Homo sapiens: one gene and its partner. The protein of the gene in region 1 interacts with the protein of each later gene in a biochemical or structural test. Each region holds a gene or a part of one and is shown in the gene's direction. Other genes may lie near its edges. The genes, in order: USP33 and CCP110.

Region 1 (7,000 bases):
TATGCTCTCCAAACTGGTATTTGCTCAATATAGTGCTGTACCTTCATATATAAGTTTGTAATGACATTTTGTATATTTTCCCTTACGTTTCTATATACACATGTAATGAAGTGGTTAACATTATGTTGCTGATATATTAGGATGCTCAAGAATTCCTTCGATGTTTAATGGATTTGCTTCATGAAGAATTGAAAGAGCAAGTCATGGAAGTAGAAGAAGATCCGCAAACCATAACCACTGAGGAGACAATGGAAGAAGACAAGAGCCAGTCGGATGTAGATTTTCAGTCTTGTGAATCTTGTAGCAACAGTGATAGAGCAGAAAATGAAAATGGCTCTAGATGCTTTTCTGAAGATAATAATGAAACAACAATGTTAATTCAGGATGATGAAAACAATTCAGAAATGTCAAAGGATTGGCAAAAAGAGAAGATGTGCAATAAGATTAATAAAGTAAATTCTGAAGGCGAATTTGATAAAGATAGAGACTCTATATCTGAAACAGTCGACTTAAACAACCAGGAAACTGTCAAAGTGCAAATACACAGCAGAGCTTCAGGTGACAATTTAGTAGTTTGTTCATGAAAATGATAGTATTTCATTTGTAGACATGGGTGTTTAAATAATTGTTACTTTGGGTATTTCTAATTAGAATTATAGTTTAGCAGTATTTGCATGTGAGTATTAGTCATAAAATTATAGAACCCGAGGATAAAAGGAATTTTTTGGGTCATTTAATTATATAAGAAATTAATCCTCCTTTTGAAGTAAACATTTCATCAGATGTCTTTTGTGTAGTCATGCAGTAATCTAAAAAATTGGGCTCCCCAGAATTTTCTCTTTTATTTTAAGCAAATTATGTTGCGATCCTGGAAAAAAGCAAATAACCCAAATTGCAATTTTCTAATTATATACACTAGTAGATTTAGATTGTTGTCATTGGAGTCACATCAGATGTGTTTTAGTGTAGAAGTTGAATTAACTATAGTGAGCCCTGCTGTGATAGATTATGCCATGATACTAGTCAGTGTTCCTTTGAGAAAGAGCATGTGGCCAAATGAAAGTTGAATTGCTTTGTAATTTATCTCTTCAAGAGTTAACTTATCTTGGCTTAAAATGTGGTATGTAGTTTTCCAAAGCACACAAAATTGGGCCATTAGAGGTTCAAATTATGTGATCTTAAAATAAGTGGCAGACATGTAATGTAAAAAAGTTTATTTTCTGTAATTACTGAAGAGTGAGAGTAACTAAGCAATTTATTTAGGTATTTGAATGAATCCAAAATTTCTTCTTGAAAATATTATTAACTATAGGAAGACTTGTGGTTCACTTGGGTAAAGTGCACAGATGCTTTCTAATCGGGAAGACTAGGAGTGTTAGGCTCCTTAATTATACTGATCTTGTGTAGAAGTTGTTAGTGAATAAATATGTCAGGTATCAGTATTGAAAGACTTAGCTTTGACTGCTGTCCAGGCTTTTCTTGTCAAAAGCCCAGTTAAGCCTGATTAGGGACATACTCATCTTTGATTGCTCTGTAACAGGTTTGTTCTTACACATAGTAACAAGGGGATGACCTAAATCAGGAGTCTGAGCTTTTAGGTGTTTTAAGGGCTTGATGAAAAAAATCTGGCGAAGTCTGTAAGGCACACAAACCTAAAACACTTCATCTCTGGTCCGTTAGAGGAAAAAATTGCCAACTCCCCATCTAAATCTCATTAACTTTATTCCCTTCAGAAAGTCCTAGAGTGAGTTGTTTTTTCACTCCCAATATTATGCAGTCTGATTTAGTCATGATTGAAATATTGAGAAATGCCTGTGTGAAAAATGATTTTGCATTATCTGGAAAAATTTCTGAGTACATCCCCTTTCCAGATCTCTTACGAACAATTCTCTTTTCTTCACTCAAATAGTTACTGAGCACATTCCCTTGCCCTGGAATATGTTAGGCACTAGGAATCCAAAGCAAACAATCAAGGTAGCTCTTATATTTTCTTGATTCATCTTATAATTTAATTCTAAAAAAAGATTCTTTCCTGATGAAGTGGTGTATTTTTTATTATAGTAAGATAAAATAACTTATGATTACTTTATACCTACATTTCTTGATTTTGATTATTATGTTAGTTTGGGAGAATAATCGATTTTTCTTTCACATGGTTTTAGAACTTCTAAAAACCTGTCCTGAATATCTTTTTTTTTTTTTTTCCTGAAACAGGGTCTCATTCTGTCACCCAGGCTGGAGTGCAGTGGCATGATCACATCTCACCACAGCCTCAACCTCCTGGGCTCAAGTGATCCTCCCACCTCAGCCTCTTGAGTAGCCAGCACTACAGGTGTACACCACCATGCCCAGCTAATTTTTAGATTTTTTTGTAGAGATGGGGGTCTCATGATGTTGCGCAGTTGGTCTTGAACTCCTGGGCTCAAGCAGTCTTCCCACCTTGGCCTCCCAGTGTTGGGATTGTAGGCGTTAGCCACCCAGCCTAGCCTCTTTTTTTTTTTTTAATGCTATATTTGGACAAACAAGATCCTCTTTGGCTTTGTATTTCCACTGCTCACTTCCTAAACTGCCTGTAATAGTCGTGTGTTATAAACATTAGTTGGGATTGGGCACGGTGGTTCATGCCTATAATCCCAACACTTTGGGAGGCCAAAGTGGGTGGATCACTTGAGGCCAGGACTTTGAGACCAGCCTGGCCAAAATGGTGAAACCCCATCTCTACTAAAAATACAAAAATGAGGTGGGCCTGGTGGCACATGCCTGTAATCTCAGCTACTTGGGAGGCTGAGGCAGAAGAATCGCTTGAATCCAGGATGCGGAGGTTGCAGTGAGCTGAGATCGCACCTCTGCACTGCAGCCTGGGGGACAGAGGGAGACTCTGTCTCAAAAAAACAAGTAAACAAAAATTAGTTGGATTTCTGGGTAGAAGATTACTGTTATTTTGCTTAGTAAGCACTTTGTTAAGTATTTAACTTGACATTTGTTAATATGATTGTGTTCAAAATATCAAATTAAGAAACCTTTAACATTATTGGACAGTTAGAATAATTTTACTATTTAAGGTAATAATGCAAATTTTAAATCTTACAGAATATATCACTGATGTCCATTCGAATGACCTGTCTACACCACAGATCCTTCCATCAAATGAAGGTGTTAATCCACGTTTATCGGCAAGCCCTCCTAAATCAGGCAATTTGTGGCCAGGATTGGCACCACCACACAAAAAAGGTAAAACGTTTCTCTTATTCAGTCTCTTTTGCTTTGGGTCTTAGTTTAAAATGATGGTTTTGGTACTTGATAATTTAAAGTGTTAATTATGAAATATGATTTGATCTTTTAAAATTGATAGCATAATTTTACATAGACATGATTAAAAATTTTGTGTGTTGGTACTCTGCTTTTAAAATTTTACATACAGTTGAATTCACTTTTTCTTGTATAGAGCTTTATGAATTTTAACACTTGCAGCATAGATTCTTGTTACCACCACCACAAACAGAATACAGAACAGCTCTAACACCCCAAAGAATTCCTGCATAGTACTACTTTGTAATCAGATCATTTCTCTATTCCTATGTTCTGGCACCCTTGATCCTCTTTTCTTATTGTTTTGCCTTTTCCTAGAATGTCATATAAATGAAATCATATAGTATGTAGTCTTTTGATTTTTTTAAATCTTTTCATATGTAGTCTTTTGAAACAGGTTTGCCTCTCAGGATAATGCATTTGAAATTCAGATATGTTACTGCGTGTCTGAATAGTTTGTTCCTTTTACTACCAAGTAATGTTTCTTTTTTTTTGTTTTGTTTTGAGATGGAGTCTCACTGTCGCCCAGGCTGGAGTACAGTGGTGCAATCTTGGCCCACTGCAACCTCTGCCTGCCAGGTTCAAGCAGTTCTCCTGCCTCAGCCTCCCGAGTAGCTGGGACTACAGGTGCACGCCACCATGCCTGGCTAATTTTTTGTATTTTTAGTAGAGATGGGCCATGCTGGTCTCGAACTCCTGACCTTGTGATCTCCCCACCTCTGCCTCCCAAAGTGTTAGAATTACAGGCATGAGCCACCATGCCCGGCCTAATATCTCATTTTTTATGGGTATACCACTGTTTATTTACCTACTGGTGGACTTTTGAATTGTTTCCAATTTTTGGCAATTATGAATAATGTTGCTCTAAAATTTATGTATAGGTTTTTGTAAGAACATTTTTTCATTTGTCTAGGACAAATACCTAGAAGTGGGGTTACTGGGTTTTATGTTTGTTTAATGCTTATAGTTGTATTAAACTGCCAGACTTTTTACCAGAGTGTCTACCATTTAGTATTCCTTCCAGGTATATATGGGAGTTCCAGTATTATGTTTTCTTAGAAGAAAACATAGGAGAAAGTCTTCATGGCCTTGGGTTAGACAAAGAGTTCTTAAAGACATTAAAAGCATGATCCATTAAAGAAAAAAATTAAAGATTTTTGTTGACAAAGGACATTCAGAGAATGGAAAGATAAGGTTGGATGTATTTATAAATCATATAGCTAGCAAAGGACATGTATCCAGAAATATATAAAGAACTCTTAAAAACTTTAAATAATAGAATCTTTTCTTCAAATAAAGCCTTACCTGGAGACAAAAACAAATAAGTGAAAACAGAATTGCTCTCAAGTCAGGATAGGGAGACCGAACCCCTTCTATTTCATCTTTAGCTTGATGATGACTTTCATCATCTTTCCCTCACTTTCTAACCTCTTCCCCTCTTCTTTTGACTTGTAAAACATTTAAGTAAACATCCCAGTGATGAAGCATTTGTGGTTTTGTGCTAATTTAGAATTTTGTTCATTTTCTCATATGTACATTTATGGTGGCCAAGGATCATTTATACTTTAAAAAAAAAAACAGGCTGGGTGCGGTGGCTCACGCCTGTAATCTCAGTACTTTGGGAGGCTGAAGTGGGTGGATCATGAGGTCAGGAGATCGAGACTATCCTGGCTAACATGGTGAAACCCTGTCTCTACTAAAAATACAAAAAAATAGCTGGGCGTGGTGGTGGGCGCCTGTAGTCCCAGCTACTTGGGAGGCTAAGGTAGGAGAATGGCATGAACCCGGGAGGCAGAACTTGGCAGTGAGCCGAGATCGCACCACTGCACTCCAGTGTGGGCAACAGTGCGAGACTCCACCTCAAAACAAAAAAACAAAAAAAAACAACAAATATCTTAAGCCTTGTCTGCTTAGTTTCTTTTATTTTTTTAATACTTATGCTCTTTTGAAGAGTATTTTGAAAATTTTCAACACAGTAATTTTTACAGTTTAAGGATTCTAGAGATCATATACAAGTAAGATTGACAAGACAAAAAAAGATTCCAGAGAAAAATGTTAAAGGAGCTGCTTTGATTTTTTTTTAATGTTTTTCAATCCTAGCTCAGTCTGCATCTCCAAAGAGAAAAAAACAGCACAAGAAATACAGAAGTGTTATTTCAGACATATTTGATGGAACAATCATTAGTTCAGTGCAGTGTCTGACTTGTGACAGGGTGAGTATGAGGGTATTAGAATACACAGAAAATTCGTGTCAAATGATTTTTAAAAATGTGACAAGATGATGTGAAAAGTTTAATTCCTTCTCTTTGCTATTGATGAGCATACATGCATTTATTGTGTTTACATCAACACAAATTTGATTCTAGGTGTAGAATTTTTTTTGGAAGTAGCAGCATCCTGTTTAAAGGATGGTGACCCATCATTGGACAGGCACATATTATCCTTCGTCATCTATTTTGGTTACATATAAAGGTGAGAAGTTGCTCAGCAACAAGAATTGGTAACACCTGCATATTCTCCCAGGCTGATGAAATTTGTATACTGGGAATCTGTTGATATTCACAGGTACAAAGCTGTGAATGTATCTCTTACATTTGGTCATATATGGTTTGTAAATATTTTTCCATGTTTAGGATGGGACTCAGATACTAAAGGTAGTATCAAATTCATAGACAATAACAAAGCATACATTAAAATCATCATGAATTTTTTAATAACACTTCTTCAAAGTTTCTTTGAGCTTTTCTTAAGTACAGTTTTACTTTAGTGCAATGATGAATATGAAATAACATCTCAAAAACAAAAAGAAGATTTCAATTATTGTGTTAGAATCTCAAGTCAAATCTAAGAACTTTCAATCGGGTCGTTTTAATGTAGGTTATTTTGGTACTAAATATTTAAGTGGAATTATCAGGCATGTTTTTAGCTATTTAAAATTAGATGCCAGATTTTGTCTCACCCTTTTAAAAAAATATTTTAAAACTACCATCAAAGGTCAATTTTCAAAAATAAATACAATAGTGCTTAAGAGTTTGGACCTCAAGATGCAGTGGCTGGATTTGGGGTGTTTAATGCTGCAGTGTCTGTGATTGTAATGGGGATGCTAATACTACTGCACAGGACTTACGTGAAGATACCTGGTACAGAGCAAGTGTGTTTTGTTTTTTGTTTTTGTTTTTTTTTTTGCTATTATGACTATGAAAGCAGTTCAATTTGCGTGTTTTTTTTTGTTTTTTGTTTTTTTTGCTTATTTAAACATGCTTTGATCTTTAGAGTCTAAAATCTAACCTTGGAAATGTTTTACTGCATTATGTTCATCCCATTTTTAAAACACAAAACAATTTTAGGTGTCTGTAACCCTCGAGACCTTTCAAGATCTGTCCTTGCCAATTCCTGGCAAGGAAGACCTTGCTAAGCTGCATTCATCAAGTCATCCAACTTCTATAGTCAAAGCAGGATCATGTGGCGAAGCATATGCTCCACAAGGGTGGATAGCTTTTTTCATGGAATATGTGAAGAGGTATGTATTTATTTTCTTTGTATTACATGATTGTTAAACCTGCTGTTTCTGCTGTACTGGCAGAACACTTCCTTTTTTTTCTATCAATGATGTTTCAGGTTTGTTGTCTCATGTGTCCCTAGCTGGTTTTGGGGTCCAGTAGTAACCTTGCAAGATTGTCTTGCTGCCTTC
Region 2 (16,267 bases), on another chromosome or scaffold:
GGATAATAGGGAAGACACTTCATCATACACCCTTTGATACTAATTGGATATTTTAAAAATGCATATGACTTTATTTTAAATCACAAACTAATATTAGAAAAAAGTGAGCTTTAAATTTATTTTTTGGTATAACAGGAGTTAAGAGATTAATTTTAATTAATTGAATTGAATTTTTAAAGACACCAGAGCTAACTGCCAACTTTTTGTAATGAAACTTTCAAACATACAGCAAAGTTGAAAGGATAGTGCAGTGACCACCCATAGATTTACCATTAGATTAAATAATTTTTAACATTGTTGTCATCTTTGCTTTATTGTGTTTGTGATTTTTATATACATCTATGTGTGTGTGTACATATGACATTTTTAAAAATTGCCTAGCTATTTGAAAACCACGGAGACCTGACACTGCTCCCCTAAATATTTTGGTGTACATCTCTTAAAAATAAGGACATTCTCCTATGTAAAGCCCCAATACCATTATCACATCTTAAGAAAACTAATAATTTTTAATAATATCTAATAATTCTGTTCATATTTAAATTTTTCCATTTGTGCTCAAAATGCCTTTTATAACTTTATTCCCCCAATCTGGATCCAAAGTTCACAATTAGTATTTGCTTGTTATGTTTCTTTATTTTAATCTAAAATAGCTACTGTACGTCTTAAAAACAGTTTTTTTTATTGGTTGAGCATGGTGCCTCACGCCTATAATCCCAGCACTTTGGGAGGCTGAGGTGGGTGGATTGCATTGCTTGATCCCCAGAGTTTGAGACCAGTCAGGGCAACGTGGTGAAATCTCATCCCTACAAAAAATACAAAAAAGAGCTGGGTGTGGTGGCGCGCACCAGGAGTCTCAGCTGCTCTAGAGGCTGAGGTGGGAGGATCACCTGAGCCCGGGAGGCTGAGGCTGCGGTGAACCCTGATCATGCCACTGCACTCCAACCTGGGTGACAGAGTGAGATACTGTCTTTAAAAAAATAACAAAACTATGATACTGAATTTTTAAAGAGACCAGAGCTATTGTCTTGTAGAATTCCTTAGATCTTGGATTTGTCCCATTGTTTCCTAATAGTGTTATTTAACTTGTTTCTCTAGTCCCTGTAGTTCCTATGAACTGGAAGTGAAGTTTGATAAACAGGTTAAAGATTTTTGGAATTCTTTGAAGATAGGGCTGGGCGGGGTGGCTCATGCCTGTAATCCCAGCACTTTGGGAGGCTGAGACCAGCCTGGCCAACATGACGAAACCCCGTCTCTACTAAAAATACAAAAATTAGCTGGGCGTGGTGGTGGATGCCTGTAATCCCAGCTATGTGGGAGGCTGAGGCAGGAGGATCCCTTGAACCCAGGAGGCGAAGGTTGCAGTGAGCCAAGATCCACTGAACCCAGTAGGCAAAGGTAGTGAGCCGAGATCGAGCCACTGCACAACAGCCTGGGCAACAGAGTGAGACCCTCTCTCAAAAAAAAAAAATGTAATCCCAGCACTTTGGGAGCCCGAGATGGGTGTATCACTTGAGGTCAGGAGTTCGAGACCAGCCTGGCCAACATGGCGAAACCCCTTGTCTACTAAAAATATAAAAATTAGCTAGGCATGATGGTGGGTGCCTGTAATCCCAGCTGTGCGTTAGGCCGAGGCAGGAGAATCGCTTGAACCCAGGAGGGATCGGGATCGCACCACTGTACTCCAACCTGAGACTCCATCTCAAAAAAAAAAGGAATTCTTTGGAGATGATGCCCTGCACTTCATACTAAATTAAATCAGAAGTTACATAATGTTTAGTTGCCCTCTATTAGTGATGTTTAGTTTGAACACTTGCTTACAGTAGTGACTGCCAGATGGCTCTTTAAAGTACACATTTTCTCCTTTTGATTAGCAAGTAAATTGTATAATCATTCTTTGGTACCATGCAATTAGGAAAAAGTTTTAAAACAACATATTTATCAGCTATTTGATAACACATTGCTTGATTTAATGTGGACCAAAATGTCTGAGGCTTGTTGTGTAGGGTCTATGACTCCGTCTGTTATTTATTTATAAGCAAAATGTGATGTTTATGGACCTAATCCACACTTTTATGTTGTATTTGATAGGTGAATATTGCAACTTTTGAAATAATTTTTTAATGATATATTTTCTATTTGTGTAAGTCTACGATAAGTCTTGACTGTTAACAGTGATTTAATTTCCCAGGACTTAATAATTAAGATTGAAATCCATTATAAAGAGATACAATGCTTAGAAGCCTTCCATTTTTTAGGTACATTATATTTTTATCAGAAGGTAGAGTGAGGTGAAAGAAAAGATGTATTCTGCTTTTGTAGGCAAATAATATATTATCTGTTTATTTTATCATTAAACCTTTGGACATTTTTTGAGGCAGCAAAGAGTTAAATTGTGCACTGGTTAGAAAATTAAAAGTTGTAGAATCCAGTTGATCCAGTGAAATAAGATACTGAAGATGGGCCAGGCGCGGTGGCTCGCGCCTGTAATCCCAGCACTTTGGGAGGCCGAGGTGGGCAGATCACAAAGTCAGGAGTTCGAGACCAGCCTGACCAACATGGTGAAACCCCATCTCTACTAAAAATACAAAAATTAGCTGGGCGTGGTGGCACGCGCCTGTAAGCCCATCTACTCCGGAGGCTGAGGCAGGAGAATCGCTTGAACCCAGGAGGCGGAGGTTGCAGTGAGCCGAGATCGCACCACTGCACTCCAGCCTAGGTGACAGAGCAAGACTCCATCTCAAAAAAAAAAAAAAAAGGATACTGAATGTGAAGTAATATTCAAGTCAATATTCAAGTGAAGTAATAAAAAACTCAGCAGTGGCCAAAAGGGCCTTAATTTTATTTCTGTCATTTTAGAACATTTGATTAGTGAACAAACTTTTTTCTTTTTAACCTTTTAACTGAAAATAATTTACACATAGCAAAATGCACAAATCTTAAGTGTTAAAGTTCCATGAGTTTTGATATATGGCATACACATGTATAACTCACACCCACACAGGATTTTCTTCACCATGGAAAGATCTCTAATGCCCCATCCCACTCAGTACCCAGACCATTGTTCTGATTTCTTTCACTATACATTAGTTTTGCCTGTTGCACATGTTTTTAATCTTTCTGATTCACAACTTCCCGATTTTATGATATTTTTATCGTGGGAAATAATTACATTTTTATGATGTTTTGCAGCTTAACATTGAGAAAAGAAAGGAAATGCAACAAGAAAAGCAGAAAGCACTTGATGTAGAAGCAAGAAAGCAGGTTAACAGGAAGAAAGCTTTACTGACTCGTGTCCAGGAGATTCTTGACAATGTTCAGGTGTGTGATTTTAGCTGTTTCAGTTATAATAAAGAAATCATAAGATAAGCGTTGATGATAATTTTTCTGAAATATATTTGCACTTAACTAATTACTAATGTACTTTACTGTTACGTTTGAGAAGCTTCATAATTTGTGATTTTCCATTTCAGTTACTCCAAAGAGAATGTACTTGCTTGTTAGTAATGCCCAGTACTTGAATCAGAGGATATTTACACAATAGAACCATACACTGAATATAATTGCTTATTGTTTGCATCTTATGACTCTAAAAACATTGAATTCTCAGTGACAAAATGACAGAATTGGGTATTATTGTTTACCCCAAACTAATTAGACTATTGACTAAATGACCTTATTCTCATTCTTTGCTTAAGTAAATAACTGCCTCCAATTTTTTTTTGGTGAAAACTCTTAGATACACAAAATGCAGTTTAGATAACATTGAATTGTTTAGATGCATCCTATGTCTAAAAACTATTTAAACAACACATCTACACCTTGTGCAGTTATTTTTAGATTTGTATAAACAATTTGTTCTGACATGTGGATCATTTTGTACTAAAAAGAAAAACAAATGAATTAGATTGAACGAATAATTTCTACAACATATAGCAGTGTTCTGCTGGTAACATCTTTTTGTTTTTTCATAATCTTAGGAGTTTGTGGTTTGTCTGTTTAATTCGTATCGATGACACGTGTATAATGAACCTTAAGGGTTCATTTCTCTGTTGGTAGTGTAAACTGAAGAAAATGACTGAGGCAAGTCTCAATCGATTTAGAGGTTTGTTTTGCCAAGGTTGAGGATGTGCCAAGGAAAAAGAGACAAAAGTTACAGTAGAATCTGTGGCTTATGCTTTTCCAGAAGAGGTTTTGAGGACTTCAGTGTATAAAGGGGAGAGAACAGCAGGAGGGGAAAGAGGAAAGAAAAAAAAAGGAGGGTAGGTAATGAGATAAGCGATCACATTTTTGTGAGGCTTTGATTAGCACTCACTGAATCCACAAGTCGCATGAGAAAGGTGGGGGTAGAGGAACAGTCAGTTATGCATTCATCTCAAGCTCAATAAATCTGCATTTTACATAGGATAAAGTAAGCAGAGTAGAGGAAGAAGTCAAATATACATTTGTCTCCAAAGGGATGATTTCTAGTCATCTTTGGTCTTTGTCCGTATCTTGTCAGAGTGAAATTCAGCAGAACTCTGGGTTGGTGTAAAGATTTTGGGGCCTACGAGGAATTTCCTTGTGAGCAATTTGCAAGAGAGTCTACCTGGGTAGATAGGTGGCCTTCTATTTTGCAGCTATCTGTTTAGGAATAAAAGGAAGGCAGTTTTTGTGTGACTCAGTTCCTAAGCTTTACTTTTTCCTTTGACATGTGATTTTCCATTTCAGTTACTCGAAATCCCTATGTAATGAGTCTTCAGAATCTGATGAAAAAGTCAAAGGAATATATAGAAAGAGAACAATCTAGACGCAGGCTGAGAGGTAGTATTAAGAGAATTGTTAATGAGAGTCATAGTGACTCTCATGTGACATAGTTGAGTTTGGGGTCCTGAGATATTATTTCCCTTTCACAGTAGTATATAGTGTGTGGGTAGTAGATTTCATTTTGCAGATTATAATTACTGTCCATATTAAGTTTAAAAAATGTATTGAGTAGCACTAATTTAACAATAAGAGGTAGGTTTTTTACTTACTACGTATTTCCTGTGATTGAAATGAAAATGGCATATCATTCTTGGTCCATTGAGGGAAGATAAAATATACTACTAATAAAATTGTTAAAAGAGCATGTATAATGTTGAACTGTAATGAATTAATTATTCAGATAGGAAAATTTTATATAATACAATTAGATTTCTGCTTCACCTGTAAAACCTAAGATTCTATGATAGATTTTTTTCTTGTTGTTATTTAACTTGTCTAACTAAAGGCTCATTTTAGTGACGTATAAACAACATAGCTTCCGAATATCACAAATGTGAAATATTTTACGTAAGGAAATCATCTGTTTTACTTAAACCTGTGAACATGTTCATGGATTTCATAAATATGCATCCTTTTTGTTTTATTTTGGTCCTGAGGCTGTGACTAAGTATGTCTTGTACTCTTGTACTGTTGATTGCATAGTACCTGGAAACCTTTTTGCATCTTTTTTGTTTTATTTTGGTTCTGAGGTTGTGACTAAGTATGTCTTATTGTACTGTGTATTGCATAGTACCTGGAAACCATTACCTGTCTTGGGATTTGTAACGTAAAATAGGAGAGCCATGTGGTCTAGAAAAAAACAAGCACATTCAAAACAACCAAAAAATATTGTAATATTCAGACTTTTTTTTTTTTTTTTTTTTTTTTCTGAGATGGAGTCGCGCTCTGTCGCCCAGGCCGGAGTGCAGTGACGTGATCTTGGCTCACTGCAAGCTCCGCCTCCCAGATTCATGCCATTCTCTTGCTTCAGCCTCCTGAGTAGCTGGGACTACAGGTGCCCACCACCAAGCCCAGCTAATTTTTTGTATTTTTAGTAGAGATGGAGTTTCACTGTGTTAGCCAGGATGATCTTGATCTCCTGACCTCATGATCCGCCCGCCTCGGCCTCCCAAAGTGCTGGGATTACAGGCGTGAGCCACCATGCCCCGCCAGTAGTCAGGCTTTTGATGTCTGTATTCATATGATAATACAATGATTTTTGCCAGTTTAATATACGGATGTATAATTACCTTTAGAAACTATCCTAGTTCTCTTTTTATTCTTTTGCAAAGTTGGATTATTTAGATACAAAATATCTATTTTTACATTCATTCATTCATTCATTCATTCATTTTTGAGACAAAGTTTAGTTAAACTTTGGAGTAAGCATGTAGGTGCAGGAGTCTTATTACTGAATCATTTTTGCTTAATCAATGTCCTGGACAAGTTAGTCTTTGTTAGAGAGGGAATCGTTTACGTAAGACATTTCATTACTTGCTGTTTATTGCATATATTATTATCCTTGGATGATAGCTATCCTAGGAGGAACAGTTGGTAATGTTAATAACATATGACTAGAAGAAATTTAAGTGCTTGTATTCTAAGATTAAATTGCACATGGATATATGAATATATGTGTGTGTGTATACACATATATATGTTCATATTTGTATCAGATTAGATGTTTCTTTTTATAACTCTTTTATAACTCTTTTAATAACTTAGGCAGGATGACCAGTAGGCATCTTTTCAATAATAATTTGAGCCCCCTGTGATACAGGATACCGTAGAAACCTGTCATCTTAGTTTTTCTTTATGTTTTGAAATGTCAGAATTCTGAATTTTCAATTTCAATTTTATTTTAGAAAACAGTGAAATCAGAGACTTTTTGTGCAATGAGGAAATATTAATTTTTAAATTTCCTGTTTCAGGTTAGAAAAGCACCTAATGCCAGTGATTTTGATCAGTGGGAGATGGAAACAGTTTACTCTAATTCAGAAGTCAGAAACTTGAATGTTCCTGCTACATTTCCAAATAGCTTTCCAAGCCATACGGAACACTCTACTGCAGCAAAGCTTGATAAGATAGCTGGGATTTTGCCATTGGATAATGAGGACCAATGTAAAACTGATGGAATAGACTTAGCTAGAGATTCAGAAGGATTTAATTCTCCGAAGCAATGTGATAGTTCCAATATTAGTCATGTAGAAAATGAAGCTTTTCCAAAGACCTCTTCAGCAACCCCACAAGAAACTCTTATTTCTGATGGTCCCTTCTCAGTAAATGAACAACAGGATCTACCACTTTTGGCAGAAGTCATCCCAGATCCCTATGTAATGAGTCTTCAGAATCTGATGAAAAAGTCAAAGGAATATATAGAAAGAGAACAATCTAGACGCAGTCTGAGAGGTAGTATCAACAGAATTGTTAATGAGAGTCATTTAGACAAAGAACATGATGCTGTTGAAGTGGCTGACTGTGTAAAAGAGAAAGGCCAGTTGACAGGCAAACACTGTGTCTCAGTTATTCCTGACAAACCAAGCCTTAATAAATCAAATGTTCTTCTCCAAGGTGCTTCCACTCAAGCAAGCAGCATGAGTATGCCAGTTTTAGCTAGCTTTTCGAAAGTGGACATACCTATACGAACTGGCCATCCCACTGTTCTAGAGTCTAATTCTGATTTTAAAGTTATTCCCACTTTTGTTACCGAAAATAATGTTATCAAAAGTCTTACAGGTTCATATGCCAAATTACCTAGTCCAGAGCCAAGTATGAGTCCTAAAATGCACCGAAGACGTTCCAGGACATCATCAGCGTGTCATATACTTATAAATAACCCAATAAATGCCTGTGAATTAAGCCCTAAAGGAAAAGAACAGGCAATGGACTTAATTATTCAAGATACTGATGAAAACACAAATGTGCCCGAAATTATGCCAAAGTTACCAACTGATTTAGCGGGAGTTTGTTCAAGCAAGGTTTATGTGGGCAAAAATACATCTGAAGTCAAAGAAGATGTGGTTTTAGGTAAATCAAATCAGGTATGTCAATCTTCAGGAAATCATTTAGAAAATAAAGTTACTCATGGACTTGTTACTGTGGAAGGTCAGTTAACATCCGATGAGAGAGGCGCACACATAATGAACAGTACCTGTGCTGCGATGCCAAAGCTGCATGAACCATATGCCAGCAGTCAGTGTATAGCAAGTCCAAACTTTGGAACTGTGAGTGGACTCAAGCCAGCCAGTATGTTAGAGAAAAACTGCAGTTTGCAAACAGAACTGAATAAGTCTTATGATGTAAAAAACCCTTCTCCTTTATTGATGCAAAACCAGAATACGAGACAGCAGATGGACACACCTATGGTGTCCTGTGGAAATGAACAATTTTTGGATAACAGTTTTGAGAAAGTTAAACGGAGACTTGATTTAGATATTGATGGTTTGCAAAAAGAAAACTGCCCTTATGTCATAACAAGTGGAATAACTGAACAAGAAAGGCAACATTTGCCAGAAAAAAGATACCCTAAGGGATCTGGCTTCGTTAACAAGAATAAAATGTTAGGAACTAGTTCCAAAGGTAAGGAATCTTTGAAGCGTTTGATACCTTCTATGCAGATACCTTTATTTTAATACTCTTAATTGACATTTTTGGGAAAAAAGTGGTCTTTATTCATATGGGCACTTAATTTTATTTATCTTATTAGAAAGCATATTAGTCAGCTACAGTTTATTGCCATTTGATAGGCTTTCTTAAAGATTTTCTTGAGACAAGGTCTGGCTCTATCACCCCAGTTTGGAGTGAAGTGGCATGACTTCAGCTCACTACAACCTCCGCCTCCTGGGCTCAAGCCATCCTCCCACCTCATCCTCCCAAGTAGCTGGGACTACAGGCTCATGCCACCATGCCCGGCTAATTTTTGTATTTTTTGTACTGTAGAGATGGAGTTTCTGGCATGTTGCCCAAGCTGGTCTCAAACTCATGAGCTTGAGTGAGCCTCCCGTCTCAGCCTCCCAAAGCTGTGGGATTACAGGCGTGAGCCACGACACCCAGCCAGGATTTTCTTTTTTGAGACAGTCTGGCACTGTTGCCCAGGCTGGAGTGCAGTGGCACAACCTTGGCTAACTGCAACCTCCACCTCCCGGTTCAGGCAATTCTCATGCCTCAGCGTCCTGAGTAGCTGGGATTACAGGCGTGAGCCATCATGCCTGGATGGATCTTCTTATTTAAATGATGAAGCTTTCATAGTCCACTTGGTATTATTGAGAATATTAATAATTGGAGGAAACAGTTCTTTTTTTTTTTTTTTTTTTTTTTTTTTTGAGACAGTCTTGCTCTGTCGCCAGGCTGGAGTGCAGTGGCGGGTTCTCACCTCACTGCAACCTCTGCTTCCTGGGTTCAATTGATTTTCGTGCCTCAGCCTCCAGAGTAGCTGGGATTACAGGTGCTTACCACCTGGCCCAGCTAATTTTTATATTTTTAGTAGAGATGTGGTTTTGCCATGTTGGCCAGGCTGCTCTCAAGCTCCTGGCCTCAAGCGATCCACCCGCCTCAGCCTCCCAAAGTGCTGGAATTACAGGCATGAGCCACCGCACCCAGCCCCAAACAGTCTTGCCTGAAACATCACTTACAGTTTTAATTCACTGTATTGCTATGAGGTCTTTCTTTTGGACTATAGTTTCTAATGTTTATTTCAGTTTGCTTTTTCATTTGTAGTATGAGCTTCGTGTAATTGGTCCTTCAGTAAACACTTTAACATCAAATTATTAGACAAAGTATCAGAAATAAGGCTCTGAGTAGGTGGTTCAAGAACGGTTCTTTAGGCCGGCGCGGTTGCTTACGCCTGTAATCCCAGCACTTTGGGAGGCCGAGGTGGGTGGATCACTTGAGGTCAGGAGTTCGAGACCAAACTGACAAACATGGCGAAACCCCGTCTCTACTAAAAATACAAAAATTAGCTGGGCGTAGTGGTGCACATCTTTAATCCCAGCTACTTGGGAGGCTGAGGCAGGAGAATTGGATGAACCCAGGAGGCGGAGGTTGCAGTGAGCCGAGATTGCACCATTGCACTCCAGCCTGGGTGACAGAGCCAGATTCCATCTCAAAAAAAAAAAATAATAATAATAAAGGTTCTTAATTAATAAAAATTATTATTTCAGTTTTTTCTGTTGTATCCATTAACAGCAATTTATTAAAGCACGTTTTTCTCCTTCATTACCCCTTACTTTGTTGTCATTGTTGATAATTCTTTATTACTGATATAGAAGACATACAAATCAAGTAAGTTAAGCTCTTAGGGCTTATGGGAAATACAGGGTTGGGTCAGACTGCTTAAAACCTGTGCAACTTTTTTTTTTTTTAATTTTTTTTTTTTGAGACAGGGTCTTGCTCCGTCACCCAGGCTAGATTGCTGTGGTGCGATCTCAGTTCACTGTAGGCCTGGGTTCAAGCGATTCTCCTGCCTCAGCCTTCCAAGTAGCTGAGATTTACAGGCATGCGCCACCACGCCCAGCTGTTATATTTTTTGTGGAGACAGGGTTTCACCATGTTGGCCAGGCTGGTCTCGAACTCCTAGGCTCAGGTGATCAGCCCTCCTTGGCCTCCCAAAGTGCTGGGATTACAGGTTTGAGCCACCAGCCCTGGCCCATCCTGTGCAACTTTATAAGAGCTCTAATAAAAACAACCACTGTTACCTGGGGAGCCAACTTGGATCCTCCAAGTAGATAGCATAGCAAGGCAAGAGGCTGCCTCAGTGAATATCAGAAGTACATAAGACCAACAGAGTGGAAATTTCTTTTTTTTTTTTTTGAGATGGAGTTTCACTCTTGTTGCCCAGGCTGGAGTGCAATGGTGCGATCTCAGCTCACTGCAACCTCCGCCTCCCAGGTTCAAGCGATTCTCCTGCTTCAGCCTCCCAAGTAGCTGAGATTACAGGCATGCGCTTGTATTTTTTCAGTAGAGATTCGGTTTCACCATGTTGGTCATGCTGGTCTCGAACTCCTGACCTCAAGTGATCCACCTGCCTTGGCCTCCCAAAGTACTGGGATTACAGACGTGAGCCACCACACCTGGCCCATACTTGGTATTTGTACATTTCAACATGTCTTACCACATTCTATTTAGGAAGCTTGTATTGTCATAATGTTTTCTCTTAGTTAGTAACTAAATATCTGGAATTTTAACGTCCAGTCCTTTTTGAAACCTCAAGCTGAGAAAGCTTTATACCATCAAGGAAACACTTTCTTTGAAAATCAAAACAAGGCAAAACTACAAGCTACACTACCAGAGATCCTGGAGGACAAGTGTCAAAAAAACAAATGATGGTAGGATGCAGTTGAGGACCACATCTGAAAGTTAAGTAGAGTCAGGAGAATCTTGTCTGAATATATAGTCCTGGGTCTGTCATTTCAGATCAGGATGGGATCTGTTGAATGAGTGGGTAAAGGTGATGCAATACAGGTCTTACTTTATTGAGTAGCATGAAATAAAAGGAGTGTGGTTCGAAGTAGAGACCCAGCTATATCTTGATTGTATTATGTCAGATCCAGGAATACTCTCTTGTCAGAAGGATAATTTAAATTGATGGTATAAAATATCAGACATTAGACTTGTGAATTTTCTAAATTGAGGAAACATGTTTCTTTTCAGAAAGCGAGGAGTTACTAAAAAGCAAGATGTTAGCTTTTGAAGAAATGCGGAAGAGACTAGAAGAACAGCACGCCCAGCAATTATCACTACTCATAGCTGAGCAGGAAAGGGAACAAGAAAGACTGCAAAAGGTGAGGAATGTGGAGGGAGATACAACTGGTAAGTGAAATTTAGCCAAGGATACCTATGAATTTTGGTCATGTATAGAATACGTGTAATTTTTGCCTCCATATATCTTAAGGTAAGGGAGTCATTTTGATACGTGAATGGTATTTTTTGTCAAAATATGAATTTTGATATTTAGATCCTTATCTAAAAGTAATTGCATAATTTATCGAGAATATTTTATTGAATCCTTGATTTAAAGCTTAATATTTTAAAAAGGTATTTTATAAATAGGTGCTAAAGTACACATTCTGCAGGAGTTGTATCATAAAAATGACACTCATGCTGGGCGTGGTATCATGAGCCTGTAGTCCCAGCTATGCAGGAGGCTGAGGTGGGAGGATTGCTTGAGCCCAGAAATTCAAGGCTGCAGTGAGCTATGATTTCGCCTTTGTCTAGCCACTGCACTCCAGCCTGGGCAACAGAGGGAGACCCTGTCTCTATAAAAAGAAAAAAAAAAAGAACGACACTTGTTATAATATTATTATAATTAATAATTTAACTATACATTATCACATATTAAATTATAGCCTGGGCGTGGTGGCTCACGCCTGTAATCCCAGCACTTTGGGAGGCCGAGGTGGATGGATCACCTGAGGTCAGGAGTTTGAGACCAGCCTGGCCAACATATAGTGAAATCCCATCTCTACTAAAAAATACAAAATGGTGGTGTATGGACCTGTAGTCCCAGCTACTTGGGAAACTGAGGCAGGAGAATCACTTGAACCCGCAAGGTGGAGATTGCAGTGAACCGAGATCGTGCCACTGCACTCCAGCCTGGGGGACAGAGCGAGATTCTGTTTCTTGAAACAAGAAAGAGAGAGAGAGGAGAGAGAGAGAGAGAGAGAGAGAGAGAGAGAGAAAGGAAGGAAGGAAAGAAAAGAAAAGAGGGAGGGAGGGAAGGGAAGGGAAGGGAGAAGGAAGGAAGGATAATTTGAGGAAGAAAAACTTGAAATAAATAATAATTGCTGATAATTACATGTACTTTTGGCTAAGCCTAAAATGATATCATTTTGGGACATAATTAAAAGGTTTAGCATGTTACAATAAACTGTTCATGTATAGGAAATAGAAGAGCAGGAGAAAATGTTAAAAGAGAAGAAGGCAATGACAGCGGAAGCCTCTGAGTTGGACATTAACAATGCAGTGGAATTAGAATGGAGAAAAATAAGTGACTCTAGTTTGCTGGAAACAATGCTGTCTCAAGCGGACTCACTCCATACTTCAAATTCAAATAGTTCTGGTAAATATTTAAAAATCCTTTTACATTTGGGAAAGTGATCCTACGGTAAGATATTTATTTGGCACACTATAAGATTATATCTCCTGTTTTCAAATGATTCCATGTCCAACCCTCTTTGCCAGCTGCTTAGTAACCAGTGAAAAATGACATGATAGGAGATCAAAGACTTGTGAGCAGATGTTTGTGAACAAAGATTACCTTTGCCAGGAAAAGATCAGGAAATTTGGCTTAGAGCCCAGTCTGATCATTCATGCAGCAGGTGATATACTTCAAGTGAAAACAGTTTGCTCTCTCCTGAGTGATCTTGAATTACCTCTAATTCCCTAGTCCCTTTAAATAGCTTATCTTCATATCTCAATTATCCTGAGATGCTGTTTGTGTTGAAAAGATCCACCTGGTATGTAAGCTTTAAAGTCCATAAATATTTTAAGTCGGCAGGTAGGTCATTTTTGGAGGCAGTTGTTATTCTTAATGAGTGTCACAAGTGTTTATTGGGATGTTCTTCGTATTCTAATTATATGACATCAAGTATAATACTATATGTATGTTTCTCTAGGTTTCACAAATTCTGCCATGCAATATAGCTTTGTTTCTGCAAACGAAGCACCATTCTACCTCTGGGGATCATCAACTAGTGGCTTGACCAAACTCTCAGTAACAAGGCCTTTTGGAAGAGCCAAAACTAGATGGTCTCAAGTGGGTAAACTTAATGATACATGTCCATCTATCTATTTATCTTTTCTTAAGAGCTATATTATCTTAGACTGTATAAATGAACACCAATAAACATTGTGTCTGTCTTCTTTCTCCTAGGTTTTTAGTCTGGAAATACAAGCAAAATTTAACAAAATAACTGCAGTGGCAAAAGGATTTCTTACTCGTAGACTTATGCAGACAGATAAGCTGAAGCAACTTCGACAAACTGTAAAAGTAAGATTCCTGTAAATCGTTTGTATTTCACTTCTGTCTTAGTTTCTATCAGTCTTGTGACAGCTGAGCTAACAGATTAGTTCAGAACTTAAACGCTTTTTAGTCACTGTAATCTAGGCAGTTTTAGAAGTCTGATTGTTTGTTGCGGGAAGTCAGGGACCCCGAATGGAGGGACCAGCTGGAGCCGCAGCAAAGGAATATAAATTGTGAAGATTTCATTTTAATATGGACATATATCAGTTCCCAAATAACACTTTTATAATTTCTTACTCCTGTCTTTACTTCAATTGCTGAACATAAATTGTGAAGATTTCATTTTAATATGGACATTTATCAGTTCCCAAAATTAATACTTTTATAATTTCTTATGCCTGTCTTTAATCTCTTAATCCTGTTATCTTCATAAGCTGAGGATGTAGGTCACCTCAGGACCACTATTGTGTTAACTCTACAAATTGATTGCAAAACATGTGTGTTTGAACAATAGGAAATCAGTGCAACTTGAAAAAGAACAGAATAACAGCGTTTTTCAGGGAACAAGGGAAGACAACCATAACTGACTGCCTGCGAGGTCGGGCAAAATAGAGCCATATTTTTCGTCTTGCAGAGAGCCTATAAACGGACGTGCAAGTAGGGAAGATATTGCTAAATTCTTTTCCTAGCAAGGAATATTAATAATTAATACCCTGGGGAAGGAATGCATCCCTGGGGGGAGGTATATAAACGGCCACTCTGGGAGTATCTGTCTTATGCGGTTGAGATAAGGACTAAAATATGCCCTGGTCTCCTGCAGTACCCTCAGGCTTACTAGGATTGGGAAATTCCACCCTGGTAAATTTGTGGTCGGACCAGTTCTCTGCTCTCAAACCCTGTTTCCTTTTAAGATGTTTATCAAGACAATACGTGCACAGCTGAACATAGACCCTTATCAGTAGTTCTGATTTTGCCCTTGTCCTGTTTCCTCAGAAGCATGTGATCTTTGTTCTCCTTTTTGCCCTTTGAAGCATGTGATCTTTGTGACCTACTCCCTGTTCTTGCACCCCCTCCCCTTTTGAAATCCTTAATGAAACTTGCTGGCTTTAAGGCTCAGGTGGGCATCATGGTCCTACCAATATGTGATGTCCCCCTCGGACGCCCAGCAGTAAAATTCCTCTCTTTGTACTCTTTCTCTTTATTTCTCATCTGGCTGACACTTATGAAAAATAGAAAGAACCTATGTTGAAATATTGGGGGCTGGTCCCCCCAATAATCGTTAATCTTTCTCAGATAATATTATGAATAACATGTAAATGAAGCAGTTTGTGTGTTTTTGACTTGCTTGAAAGTGAGTGGTTTGACTTCTGATAAGTAATAGTTTTATTTATGTTCTTAGTACAGTCGGTCCTCTATCTCTGGGTTCCACATCTGTGGATTCAACGAACCATGGATCAAAAATAATTCAGAAAAAACAAATGATGGTTGTGTCTGTACTGAACATGTACAAATTTTTTTTCCTTGTCATTATTTCCTAAACAATATAACAACTATTTACATAGCATGTACATTTATTAGGTATTTTAACTAATCTAGAGATGATTTAAAGTATATGGGAGATGTGCTTAGGTTATATGCAGATAACTATTTTATATAAGGGACTCCAGCATCCTTGGATTTTGGTATCTGAGGGATTCATGGAACCAGTCCCCCACAGATACTGACGAAAGACTGTAATTTTGGATTGACTGAGAAAAAGAAAAAAGCAAACTCCAGTGATCACAAATCTTTCTAGAAAAATGTTTTTGAAGGAGCATTTCTTTTTTCAGGATACTATGGAATTCATAAGAAGTTTTCAGTCAGAAGCACCATTAAAGAGAGGCATTGTTTCAGCTCAAGATGCTTCACTTCAGGAAAGAGTGTTAGCTCAGGTAAATACATGGATCCTGAAGGCTTTTAAGACATGGACATATTATATTTCTCCTTTTTTATTTAATCACTGAAAATAGGTTTCAATGAAAACTATTTTAATCTTTTTCTATAAATAAGTGTACATGGTATATAGTATTCCTGAACTCTAACCTCATCTTTTAAATGTATACAATATTTTCTTCTCTTGTGCCTAGTTGCGAGCTGCCTTGTACGGTATTCATGACATATTCTTTGTAATGGATGCAGCTGAAAGAATGTCTATTCTACATCATGATCGAGAAGTTCGCAAAGAGAAAATGCTCAGGCAAATGGTATGTTATATGATTTCTAATGAATAGAGTTCTTCTGGGTTTAGGGTAATTGATACTAAATGTCAGTTTTGGTTGACTTCAGCACCCTTCTTCTGATAATTCTTAAGCACAAGTAATTCCTGGAATTACTAGCAGCATTTAAATCTGTAGACAGATTTAAAAGAATTACATCATTTAAGAATTACATATTGTTTTCTTATTGGATTTTAGAGTTGAAGCTTTGAATGTTTTGCTCAGATGGCTTATACAATCTATCAGCTGCTCCTGATTGAATTTCCTT

Evidence for each region.
Region 2: of the proteins of USP33 (region 1) and CCP110, one has a biochemical effect on the other in vitro, tested with the Homo sapiens proteins (one study listed by BioGRID).

What each region holds. Positions count from the first base shown.
Region 1 is NC_000001.11:77,721,853-77,728,852, reverse strand, and holds part of USP33 (ubiquitin carboxyl-terminal hydrolase 33), read left to right. Parts: intron 1-140; coding exon 141-558; intron 559-3,090; coding exon 3,091-3,231; intron 3,232-5,409; coding exon 5,410-5,522; intron 5,523-6,656; coding exon 6,657-6,829; intron 6,830-6,927; coding exon 6,928-7,000. UniProt on the Homo sapiens protein: Deubiquitinating enzyme involved in various processes such as centrosome duplication, cellular migration and beta-2 adrenergic receptor/ADRB2 recycling.
Region 2 is NC_000016.10:19,529,224-19,545,490, forward strand, and holds part of CCP110 (centriolar coiled-coil protein of 110 kDa), read left to right. Parts: intron 1-3,192; coding exon 3,193-3,321; intron 3,322-6,716; coding exon 6,717-8,364; intron 8,365-11,433; coding exon 11,434-11,564; intron 11,565-12,663; coding exon 12,664-12,841; intron 12,842-13,397; coding exon 13,398-13,537; intron 13,538-13,654; coding exon 13,655-13,771; intron 13,772-15,573; coding exon 15,574-15,675; intron 15,676-15,870; coding exon 15,871-15,987; intron 15,988-16,267.